Homo sapiens: one gene and its partners. The protein of the gene in region 3 purifies or fractionates together with the protein of the main gene of each other region. This does not show direct contact. Each region holds a gene or a part of one and is shown on either strand. Other genes may lie near its edges. The genes, in order: CA10, TARS1 and FHOD1.

Region 1 (3,653 bases), on a different chromosome or scaffold from region 3:
ACTGTCTACAATCTCAAACAGGCTACAAACTATATAAAGTACAGTGCTAGTTGTAGACATGCAACAGAAATTTAAAATCCAAAGAAATGTTAGAATTTCAAACAAATTTTAACAAAGAATCCATTGAACCGTTGCAAAGATCCTTAATACAAAAACGAAAGTCACAAAGTGAATAACCATATTAGGACACTTCATATTCTCTCAATTCAATAGCTCCCTAAGTGGGCTCATCCCAACTTTCCAGTATCTCCCAAAGTGAATTTTTTGTTTCAGTTGGGACATTCTTTAGCGTACATCCTCTTGTTTCTATTCCTCCTTTTTGATGATGAGGTCCCCTCTGTCTCTTTCATCCAAACCTCCAAAATCAATCTAATATACTCCTTTTCTTTCATGTCTAAACTTCTCCCTTCTATACAATTTATGCCAATTATTAAACAATTAGACATTATTCCTATTCCTTTATATCACAATGCATTTTAGCATTACAACTTTGCATTTATAATAATATCTTAACAAATAAACATTACTCATATTACTTTATATCATTCTAAACTATGTGTATGTATCTCAACTTTGCTTCTATAACTATATCTTAAGTATGGATCATATATAGTAATGACACAGATGCTTTACACTTGCATAATGCAAAAAATATTTATTCAAGAATCACTCTCTGAAGTTTCCCTCAGCAATGCTTTGAAATAGGCAAAGCAAATATAATTTTTATTTTACAGATGAGGATTGAGATTCTGAGAGGTAAAGAAAACTGCCCAAATTTATAAAGGTAATGAAGGTAGAGTCACGTTGAAGGATAGGTCTTCTGATTTCCATACTCTTTCTATAATGGCTTGCTATCATACACATTTATGATACCTAGATCTCTTTTTGACCTTAGTCCCAAGTATGTAATGCTTAATTAAGGTGATAAACTGAGACATTAGTTACTGACTTAGGCTAGTAATCAAACCCCTCTCCCCAGCCAAGGGACTGGGTATTCACATCAACATTTATTTTTTCCCTTGGGATTTCATACAACTCCAAAAGACTTTCTTGACTCACTATCTGGAGAGTTTTATCTATGATGATGGTTATCTGTCAGTAACTGGGCTATATGACATCACATGGGAAACTGGATTTAAAGAAACCACATTGCTAATGAGATCATCAGATAAATAGTCATTGTAAGGGTGGGGCTTTTTATTTGATGGGACATTCTATTTCAAGCCATATTGAAAGCATATGTCGTTTGCCAGTGTTGAGGCACTTTAAAGTTGGGTCTATACTGCATTGTAATATACAACTGAAAGAAAAATTCGCTGATCCCCTGGGTAATAAGTACTACATGGTTTCCAGGTAGTTTAGTAAACTTTCCAAGCCTCAACTCCATATTGGACTCATAGGGATAAAGTGGGTTACAGTTATGACTATGCACCAAAGCTTAATGCTACCAGTCTCATTTGTATGAGAAGGAAAATTAAGAGACTTTTCAAAATTATTTAGCCAAGGCTTCCTGGAAAATAGGGTTTGTGCTCAATGTTATAGATGTGCTTGCTGATGATGGTTTTCTTTTTGCTTTTAAACAAGTTGATATGGAAAAAGGTAAAAGCTCTACTCCACCATGAACCAAGCCTATACAATGTCAGATTTGTAGGAAATAATGACATTATTGCATGCTTACTATGTGGTAGAAACTGTGCTGTGTGAAAATCATTGGACATAATATCTCATTTAGTTGATAGAACAAACATGTGACACGTGTACTGTTATCTCTTTTCTACACATAAGGAAACTGAAGTTATGCCATTTTAATGTTAAGATTAGGAAAACAGTGTAGGAAATATTCCTTGCTTGTAGAGATTGCTGATCCTAAGATGCTAGAGGCATTTGGGTAATAGCCTCATCTGTTTGATTGACAGGGTAATGTACAACTCAAATGCTACCTTAATTCTAGCTCTAAATTGTAATCATCTAAAACTTTTACTTCCAAATTCTCTAAGACTTCAATTCATTTAACCTAATTTATTCTTTCAGAGACATCAAAATAAAAAATATTAAATAAAAATATTTGAAAGGAATCTTGAACCAAAACATAAATGATATACTGAATTTTGACTCAGGTAGACCTGGATGTGAAACCTCTAGTCTGAAGCTCTGTGGGCTTTGGTTGCTATATCTATAAGATTATCCCACAAATTCTAAGAATAGATGAATTAAATATGTGCAATATATGTACAATGTGTGAAAATACCACATAATTCAAATGGTTATTGATGTTATTATTATGAATAAACTGACAAAGAAGTAAAGTTACATAAGGAGGAAGTAGGATGCATTGTAAAAATTAAATCAGGCAGCTCTCGTTTGACCAAGAAATTTCTCTCCTCGTGCTGCTAAGCATACATTCTTGCTGATCTGAGCTGCTTTGGTAGGAAGGGAATGGTGCTCTTGCAGTACACGGAAAAATCATTCTGGTTCTCTCTCTCTCCCTCTCTCTTTCTGTCTCTGATCTCTTCACAGACCCTGGATGCCTTACATTTTCAGAAAAGTGAGATCTGAGTTTAACGGAAAGCCAGAGGAACTCCCAAATCATGCCCTTTAGCCTAGCTATGTTGCATTAAGTAGCCAAAGCTGATGTGATCTCACAAATAAAAGACATACATGCTACTGACCCAGCATCTAGCTAAGCCTGGCCAAACAGTCTCATTTTCCAACAGTTTCATCAAAACCAAATTATTAGTGCAGAACCACCAAATATGCCAAGCCCAGGTGTCTGTACTTTAAGCAATATATCCAAATAGGCCCAAGGAGAAATTTGGGGGTGGGTTAGAGGAAGTGTTGGAACCTTTGGTTAACAAAACACTAAGCTACAAAGCGCCAATGTTTTCCTGAAAGCAAATGCCACCAAATGAAATTCAGTCAATATATCTTCCACATGACAAAGCTACTACCAACATTTTCCTTCTGTAAAGTGTTTAGACTACAGACTTTTACTAGCCTTTTCCAGCCTGGTGTTTCTCAATAATGAAGCCAACTCTATCAATGCTTCAAGTATCAATGTCTGGTAACTCTGTAAGGATTAGCACCCACTTAGTGGTCAGGAAAATTCATTCCAAGATGCTAAAGAGGTGCTTTGTTTTTAATATTTTTAATTTAAGATTTAGTAGATTCTATGATCACAGGGTTATGTTCCTTTCAATAGAGCTCAGTCATGAGTAAATTAAAACTGCAAATCATGGAGACAGAAATGAAAGATCCACTAAACTCTCTCAAAGCCACAAATATTCAACCTTAGTGCATTGCATTTCCTATACATCCTAAGGCTGCCAGATGGAAAAAGAATGGAGTCTGAGTCTCCCAAACTGTAGCAATTGTGAGTCATAATCATATTACTAATAATAATTCTCACATACATGGGCATTACTGAATGAGTGGCTCTGCTTACAGGAGGATGAGGCCACCCTGACCATGGAGAAGAAATGGCCTTTTAAAGTTTATGGATGTGTAAAATAAAGAGTATATGATGTTGCATCCCTGCCTAAATGTCTTCATAAAGTGCAAATTAATGCAGATCCTAACTAGGCATTTGGAACGCTAACCTAGTTTTCTGTGTTTAGCTAATAGCTAGCAATTTTGCTTACACTTTTATCCTCTCA
Region 2 (3,653 bases), on a different chromosome or scaffold from region 3:
ATTACATAGCTGGGCGTGTTGGCTCACAGCTGTAATCCCAGCACTTTGAGAGGCCAAGGCAGGCAGATCACCTGAGGTCAGGAGTTCAAGACCAGCCTGGCCAACATGGCGAAACCCTGTCTCTACTAAAAATACAAAAATTAGCCAGTCATGGTGGCGCACACCTGTAGTCCCAACTACTTGGAGGCTGAGGTGGGAGGATAGCTTGAACTCGGGAGGTGGAGGTTGCAGTGAGCCAAGATTGAGCCACTGCACTCCAGCCTTGGTGACAGAGCGAGAGTCCGTCTCCAGGGAAAAAAATAAAAGGTTGAATTACATAAAACATTGATGGGCTTTAGCTCTGGAGTTAAGTCACTGATCTGCACTGAGAATACTTTATGAAATTTTTACAAAAGTCCAGAATAACTTTTTGTTCTGTGAAAAATTATAACATTGATAACAGGCTATTTAAAGATTCACATAATTAGTGGTGAATATGAAAGGGAAGGACAAAAAAGACATGTTCCATTTGCGTCAAAAGGTTTTTCTTTGAAGTTTTGTTATAAATCTTTTTTTTTTTTTTTTGAGACGGAGGAGTCTCGCTCTGTCGCCCAGGCTGGAGTGCATTGGCGCCATCTTGGCTCACTGCAAGCTCCGCTTCCTGGGTTGACGCCATTCTCCTGCCTCGGCCTCCTGAGTAGCTGGGATTACAGGCGCCCGCCACCACGCCTGCCTAATTTTTGTATTTTTAGTAGAGACGGGGTTTCACTGTGTTAGCCAGGATGGTCTTGATCTCCTGACCTCGTGATCCACCCGCCTCGGCCTCCCAAAGTGCTGGGATTACAGGCGTGAGCCACTGCGCCTGGCCGTTTTGTTACAAATCTTAAAGATTATTTTACCCTTCTTTGAAAAATTGAAATGATCCAGTATGGCCCATGTGTAATCTACATTTTCAGAGTAACTCTATTCTTAGAATCTTGGGGCTCCATATTGGATCATAAGATAAAAGTCATGTTCTTCCCAAAGAATATAGAGAATATGATTATCCTTTTTATCAGTTCTTTAATCTCCTGAAAACTGTTTTACACCAATATGATGAAATACATTTCTCTCTGCCAAATTCATGTTATGTTTTGTGAAATGCATGTATTTATTTTATTGACTCCATCTGATCTCAGGAGGAAAGAAAACATTGTTTATAACCTATGGTAAAGTTAGTAGGAGCATTGAAAATAGAAAGGAGTTTGTTGTTTACTTTCTGTTTGGTTCTTTTCTCTTGATCCTCAGATAGGAGTTGTATACATTTTGTTGTAAACCCTTAGACATAGAGAGCCACCAACACAGCAAGCCTGGCTAGCTTAAAGCCTTCTAGTGGTAGGTTTCTTTGAGATTTACAGTGTAAAGGGTGTATACTTTTTCTTCACAGTGTAGAATGTTGCCTACCTTCGTTGAGATGTCCAGGCTGTTATAGACTATTATTTCTCTAGCTGTGCATTTAGATGTATAATCTGGCTCACCTACTCAACTCTGCTCTAGTCACACAGCTTCCTGCAAAAACCTCTCTTCACTTGCATCTCTGCTTGCATCTGTGGCCATTCCCTCATCTGGAATGCCATGGCCTCCTCTTTTCTTCCTGTGAGTGCTTTATCCTCAAAGCCTTTCCAGATGACTCTGACCTGTACTGCTTTCCCTCCTCAGAACTCCTGTAGCTTTTACACTCTGTGTGCTCTGATATTTCATCACTTGATGATACTTTATGTTCGATGTTGTATATTGGGTGTGTAATGTTTTTACTCACATTATATGGAAAGTTTTATTAAATAGTCTTTCATTTTACCTCTATATTTGTTATAAATATTATCATAGGCATTTGCAGAATTTATTCTGAGGTTAGCATTGTCTGTCAAAGAAAGGATCTGGTGTACATTTTAAGCAGGAAGAGGAACAGAGAAGTTATTTAGTAGGCCTTTTTTTTTTCCTTTGGAGTCTACATAGCTTAGCTTTGTAGAAAGAGAAAGGTGGGTGTATTAAGAGAAAACTCGGTGTGGTGACTTGTGCCAGTTGTCCCAGCTACTCTAGAGGCTGATGTTGGAGGATTGCTTCAGGCCAGGAGGCCAGCCTGCGCAACATAGCAAGACCCTGTCGCTAAAAAATTAAAAAAAAAAAAACTTATTTGTTGGAGAAATTAAGATTATTCAAACCATTGGAAATTGATAGTGCTTATTTATCAGAGTTGCCATATCTGCTTAAACAGGAGGCATTCAATGTCAAATGATAATGTTCTGCATTTTCAGGATCTTCCAGTTAGGTTCTTAGGTACATTTTTGGAATTTGTTGTTTTTATCATTATATTTCAGAAAAATAGAGATACATCAATATAAAAAAACAATATATAATAAAAATAGTGTTTATTTTCCTGTTTTCAAATTAGATTCGTGTGTACTTATATATGTGTGGACTTTTTTTTTTTTTTTTTTTTTTAAGTCAAGGCCTGGCCGACAACACCGTTATTGCTAAAGTAAATAATGTTGTGTGGGACCTGGACCGCCCTCTGGAAGAAGATTGTACCTTGGAGCTTCTCAAGTTTGAGGATGAGGAAGCTCAGGCAGTAAGTTGCTGATTAGTATTCATTGAATTTTAGGATGCAGATTCACATTTGAAGTCTTTTCCAGCTCAGTCCTGCTGCGATTGGGTGGCTAACATTTATTGTTGTCTCACTGTCATATTTGAAATCTTCATTTTGTCCTTCATTTAGGGAACATAATAAAAGTGCTTGCCTTAGAAAATAAAGGGGTGAAGCTGAATAAGTCTTTTCATTACTAGACACTTCAATAGGGAAAATGTTTTGGGAATTGTATTAAACATTGATTAAGCAAGTAAAAATTGTTTTCTAAACTGTGAACACTATTTTATTTTAATTTTTTTTTTTTTTAATGATGGAGTCTTGCTTTGTCACTCAGACTGTAGTGCAGTGGTGCGCTCTTGCCTCAGTACAACCTCCACCTCCCAGGTTCAAGCTATTCTCCTGCCTCAGCCTCCCAAGTAGCTGGGATTATAGGAGCGCACTACCACACTTGGCTAATTTTTGTATTTTTAGTAGAGATGGGGTTTCACCATGTTGGCCAGGCTGGTCTTGAACTCCTGACCTCAAGTGATCTGCCCACCTCGGCCCCCCAAAGTGCTGGGATTATAGGTGTGAGCCACTGTGCCTGGCCTCTAAGCTATGAACACTCTAGCAAGATATGTACATTTGACAAATAAATTTGAACCTTACTTCAAAGCACTGCCTTTATTGGATAATTTCTGTATTTTTTTCTCATCTTAAGATGCAAATCTGCTGGATAACACTATAAAAGTCAACCTGCATGTGATGACAAGATTTTCTTTTTAATTCTCCATGGCTGTGTATCATATAAGGGGAGACAAAGTATTTTGTTTTAGTGATGATTGTTCACTTATGTATGTGGATTAGTGGTTTTCAAATGTATTTTGGAGCCCTCAAGTTTCTTACGAGAATTTTTTAATGTCACTTTGGTACCTTAATACTAAATCTTGAAAACATTGCTTTGGGTGTATTCTGACTCATCCCAGTGATTACTTTAAAACCAAGTACTGCCATTTGATTTCAGTGTACAGATGTTTGTCCTCGTGTTTTGTCATTGTGTTGTGGGGTC
Region 3 (3,653 bases):
CCCCAAGGCTGAGCCCATCTGGGAGCTCCCTACCCGTGCACCCAGGCTCTCTATTGGGGACCTGGACTTTTCAGATCTAGGGGAGGATGAAGACCAGGACATGCTGAATGTAGAGTCTGTGGAGGCTGGGAAAGACATCCCAGCTCCCTCACCCCCACTGCCCCTGCTCTCGGGAGTACCCCCCCCTCCCCCACTTCCACCTCCCCCACCCATCAAAGGCCCCTTCCCACCACCTCCACCTCTACCTCTGGCTGCCCCTCTTCCCCATTCAGTGCCTGACAGCTCAGCCCTCCCCACTAAGAGGAAGACAGTAAAACTTTTCTGGCGTGAGCTGAAGCTGGCTGGGGGCCATGGAGTCTCTGCAAGCCGCTTTGGGCCCTGCGCCACCCTCTGGGCTTCACTGGACCCTGTCTCAGTGGACACGGCCCGACTGGAACACCTCTTTGAGTCTCGTGCCAAAGAGGTGCTGCCCTCCAAGGTAAATCCACTCATCTGCAAGGTAGCCCCAAGGGAGGCAGGAGGGAATCAGAGCTTAAGGATCTGACCTGTTGGAGCTAGTCACTCACTTCCCACATGGGGAAACCAAGGCAAAGAAAGGAGTAGGAAATTGTCCAAGGTCTCCTAACAAGGGATCAGCAGTGCCCCAACTAGAATCTAAATGTGGCCGGGCATGGTGGCTCACACCTGTAATCCAAGAGTTTGAGACCAGCCTGTGCAACATAGTGAGACATTATCTCTACTAAAAGTTGGTCTGGGTGTAGTGGCTCATGCCTGTAATCCCAGGACCTTGGGAGGCCGAGGCAGGTGGATCATTTGAGGTCAGGAGTTCGAGACCAGCCTGGTCAAATTAGCAAAACCCCGTCTCTACTAAAAACACAAAATTAGCCAAGCGTGGTGGCGGGCACCTGTAATCCCAGCTACTCGGGAGGCTGAGGCAGGAGAATCACTTGAACCCGGGAGGTAGAGGTTGCAGTGAGTCGAGATCGCACCATTGCACTCCAGCCTGGGGGACAAGAGCAAGACTTCGTCTCAAAAATAACTAAATAAATAAAAATAAATAAATGTTAAAAAAAAAATTAGCCGGGCATGGTGGCTCACCCCTGTAATCCCAGCACTTTGGGAGGCCAAGGCAGGCAGATTACTTGAGGCCAGGAGTTTGAGACCAGCCTGGCCAACATGGTGAAACCCCGTCTCTACTAAAAATATGAAAATGAGCTGGGCGTGGTGGCTCATGCCTGCAATACCAGCTACTTGGGAGGCTGAGGCAAAAGAATTGCTTGAACCTGGGAGGCGGAAAAAAAAATGTTAAAAAAAAAAATAGTTGGGTATGGTGGTACACGCCTGTAATCCCAGCTACTTGGGAGGCTGAGGCAGGAAAATCCCAGAAGATAAGCTGCAGTGGGCGATGATGGCACCACTGCACTCCAGCCTAGATGGTAGAGCCAGGCCCTGTCTCAAAAGAATCTAAGCTCATCCCCATGACTTACACATTCCAGGTTGCCAGTTTGTCAGTTGTGGGATCATTTGGCAATCTAGAGGAGGGCCTTGGAGTGCCCTCTGAGGTTGCTGTCCCAGCTAGTCCCTTCCTCAGTCTTTTTTTTTTTTTTTTTTTTTTTGAGACAGAGTCTTGCTCAGTCACCCAGGATGTAGTGCAATGGTGTGATCTCAGCTCACTGCAAGCTCCGCCTCCCGGGTTCACGCCATTCTCCTGCCTCAGCCTCCCGAGTAGCTGGGACTACAGGTGCCCGCCACCACGCCCAGCTAATTTTTTTTGTATTTTTAGTAGAGATGGGGTTTCACCATGTTAGCCAGGATGGTCTCGATCTCCTGACCTCGTGGTCCACCCGCCTTGGCCTCCCAAAGTGCTGGGATTACAGGCGTGAGCCACCGCGTCAGGCCCCCTTCCTCAGTCTTACACTGCCCTTCCCCCAACCATGCAGAAAGCTGGAGAGGGCCGCCGGACAATGACCACAGTGCTGGACCCCAAGCGCAGCAACGCCATCAACATCGGCCTAACCACACTGCCACCTGTGCATGTCATTAAGGCTGCTCTGCTCAACTTTGATGAGTTTGCTGTCAGCAAGGATGGCATTGAGGTGAGGTCACCCAGCTATGGGTGTTGGGGGGAGGTCTGGCCTTCTCCTTTGGTAGGTGGGCATTTCCTGTCCCTCTGGTGGTGGGCATGGGCTTGGCATTTCTGCAGGGCAGTCCCCAGACACTGGGGCCTCCCCTAGATGACTGAGGGGTCAAGACCAATGCCTCAGGCCTCAGGCCTGCATTGAGGGGGCCATGTCAGGCTCTGGCTACATCCTCAGAAGCTACTGACCATGATGCCCACGGAGGAAGAGCGGCAGAAGATTGAGGAAGCCCAGCTGGCCAACCCTGACATACCCCTGGGCCCAGCCGAGAACTTCCTGATGACTCTTGCCTCCATTGGCGGCCTCGCTGCTCGTCTACAACTCTGGGCCTTCAAGCTGGACTATGACAGCATGGAGCGGGTACCTGGGTCTTGGAGTGGGACAGTCAGTAGGGACAGGTAAGCATCATGACCATGTAGTCTGAGAGTCCCTGGTCTCCCATACCAGGAAATTGCTGAGCCACTGTTTGACCTGAAAGTGGGTATGGAACAGCTGGTACAGAATGCCACCTTCCGCTGCATCCTGGCTACCCTCCTAGCGGTGGGCAACTTCCTCAATGGCTCCCAGGTGAGTGAGAGTACATGGGGACTAGGGGGAGTCAGGGTTCTGGAGCCAACCAGGCCCAGGCTCAGAAAGGGTCCTTTCAGAGCAGCGGCTTTGAGCTGAGCTACCTGGAGAAGGTGTCAGAGGTGAAGGACACGGTGCGTCGACAGTCACTGCTACACCATCTCTGCTCCCTAGTGCTCCAGACCCGGCCTGAGTCCTCTGACCTCTATTCAGAAATCCCTGCCCTGACCCGCTGTGCCAAGGTTAGCACCTGCCAGAATCAACCAAGGCCGGACAAGGCATGAGGAGCGCTGCTTCCTGGGCCTGGCTCCTCCCCCTTCTCCCCATTTGGGCTGCTGTGCCAGGGCTTGCTCCAGCCACCTGGGTGTGAGCTATGCCCTCTGCCAGAAATGCTCTTTCCTCTATTGGCCTGGCCACACCTACTCAGTCTTTGGGTCTGTTTAACTGCCACTTCCCCCAGTAAACCTTCTGCTCCCCATTCACATCAGATGGACTTGTGTCTCTTGCACTAGTCTATGAGATTTGGATGTCTGTGTCCTTAGGGCCCAAGCTGGCCACTCTGGCCCAGAAGCAGCCTCGGGCCATGTCTTGTCTACAGGGTGTGGGGGGACAGTATGTGCACCCCCTTGCTTTCTCAGGTGGACTTTGAACAGCTGACTGAGAACCTGGGGCAGCTGGAGCGCCGGAGCCGGGCAGCCGAGGAGAGCCTGCGGAGCTTGGCCAAGCATGAGCTGGCCCCAGCCCTGCGTGCCCGCCTCACCCACTTCCTGGACCAGTGTGCCCGCCGTGTTGCCATGCTAAGGATAGTGCACCGCCGTGTCTGCAATAGGTAGGGGCATGGACCCAAGAGAGGCAGGACGGCCACCACCCTCCCTCAGACAATAAGCAGGACTTACTGTCCCTCCCTACTCTGACCTGCCTAGGTTCCATGCCTTCCTGCTCTACCTG

Evidence for each region.
Region 1: the proteins of FHOD1 (region 3) and CA10 purify together in Homo sapiens (co-immunoprecipitation; one large-scale study listed by IntAct). This does not show direct contact.
Region 2: the proteins of FHOD1 (region 3) and TARS1 fractionate together in Homo sapiens (co-fractionation; one large-scale study listed by BioGRID). This does not show direct contact.

What each region holds. Positions count from the first base shown.
Region 1 is NC_000017.11:52,152,133-52,155,785, forward strand, and holds part of CA10 (carbonic anhydrase-related protein 10 precursor), read right to left. Parts: intron 1-3,653. UniProt on the Homo sapiens protein: Does not have a catalytic activity.
Region 2 is NC_000005.10:33,450,826-33,454,478, forward strand, and holds part of TARS1 (threonine--tRNA ligase 1, cytoplasmic), read left to right. Parts: intron 1-1,515; coding exon of another isoform or gene 1,516-1,614; intron 1,615-2,463; coding exon 2,464-2,587; intron 2,588-3,653. UniProt on the Homo sapiens protein: Catalyzes the attachment of threonine to tRNA(Thr) in a two-step reaction: threonine is first activated by ATP to form Thr-AMP and then transferred to the acceptor end of tRNA(Thr).
Region 3 is NC_000016.10:67,230,482-67,234,134, reverse strand, and holds part of FHOD1 (FH1/FH2 domain-containing protein 1), read left to right. Parts: coding exon 1-478; intron 479-1,940; coding exon 1,941-2,096; intron 2,097-2,296; coding exon of another isoform or gene 2,297-2,315; coding exon 2,316-2,498; exon of another isoform or gene 2,499-2,499; intron 2,500-2,585; coding exon 2,586-2,705; intron 2,706-2,785; coding exon 2,786-2,947; intron 2,948-3,343; coding exon 3,344-3,534; intron 3,535-3,628; coding exon 3,629-3,653. UniProt on the Homo sapiens protein: Required for the assembly of F-actin structures, such as stress fibers. Depends on the Rho-ROCK cascade for its activity. Contributes to the coordination of microtubules with actin fibers and plays a role in cell elongation.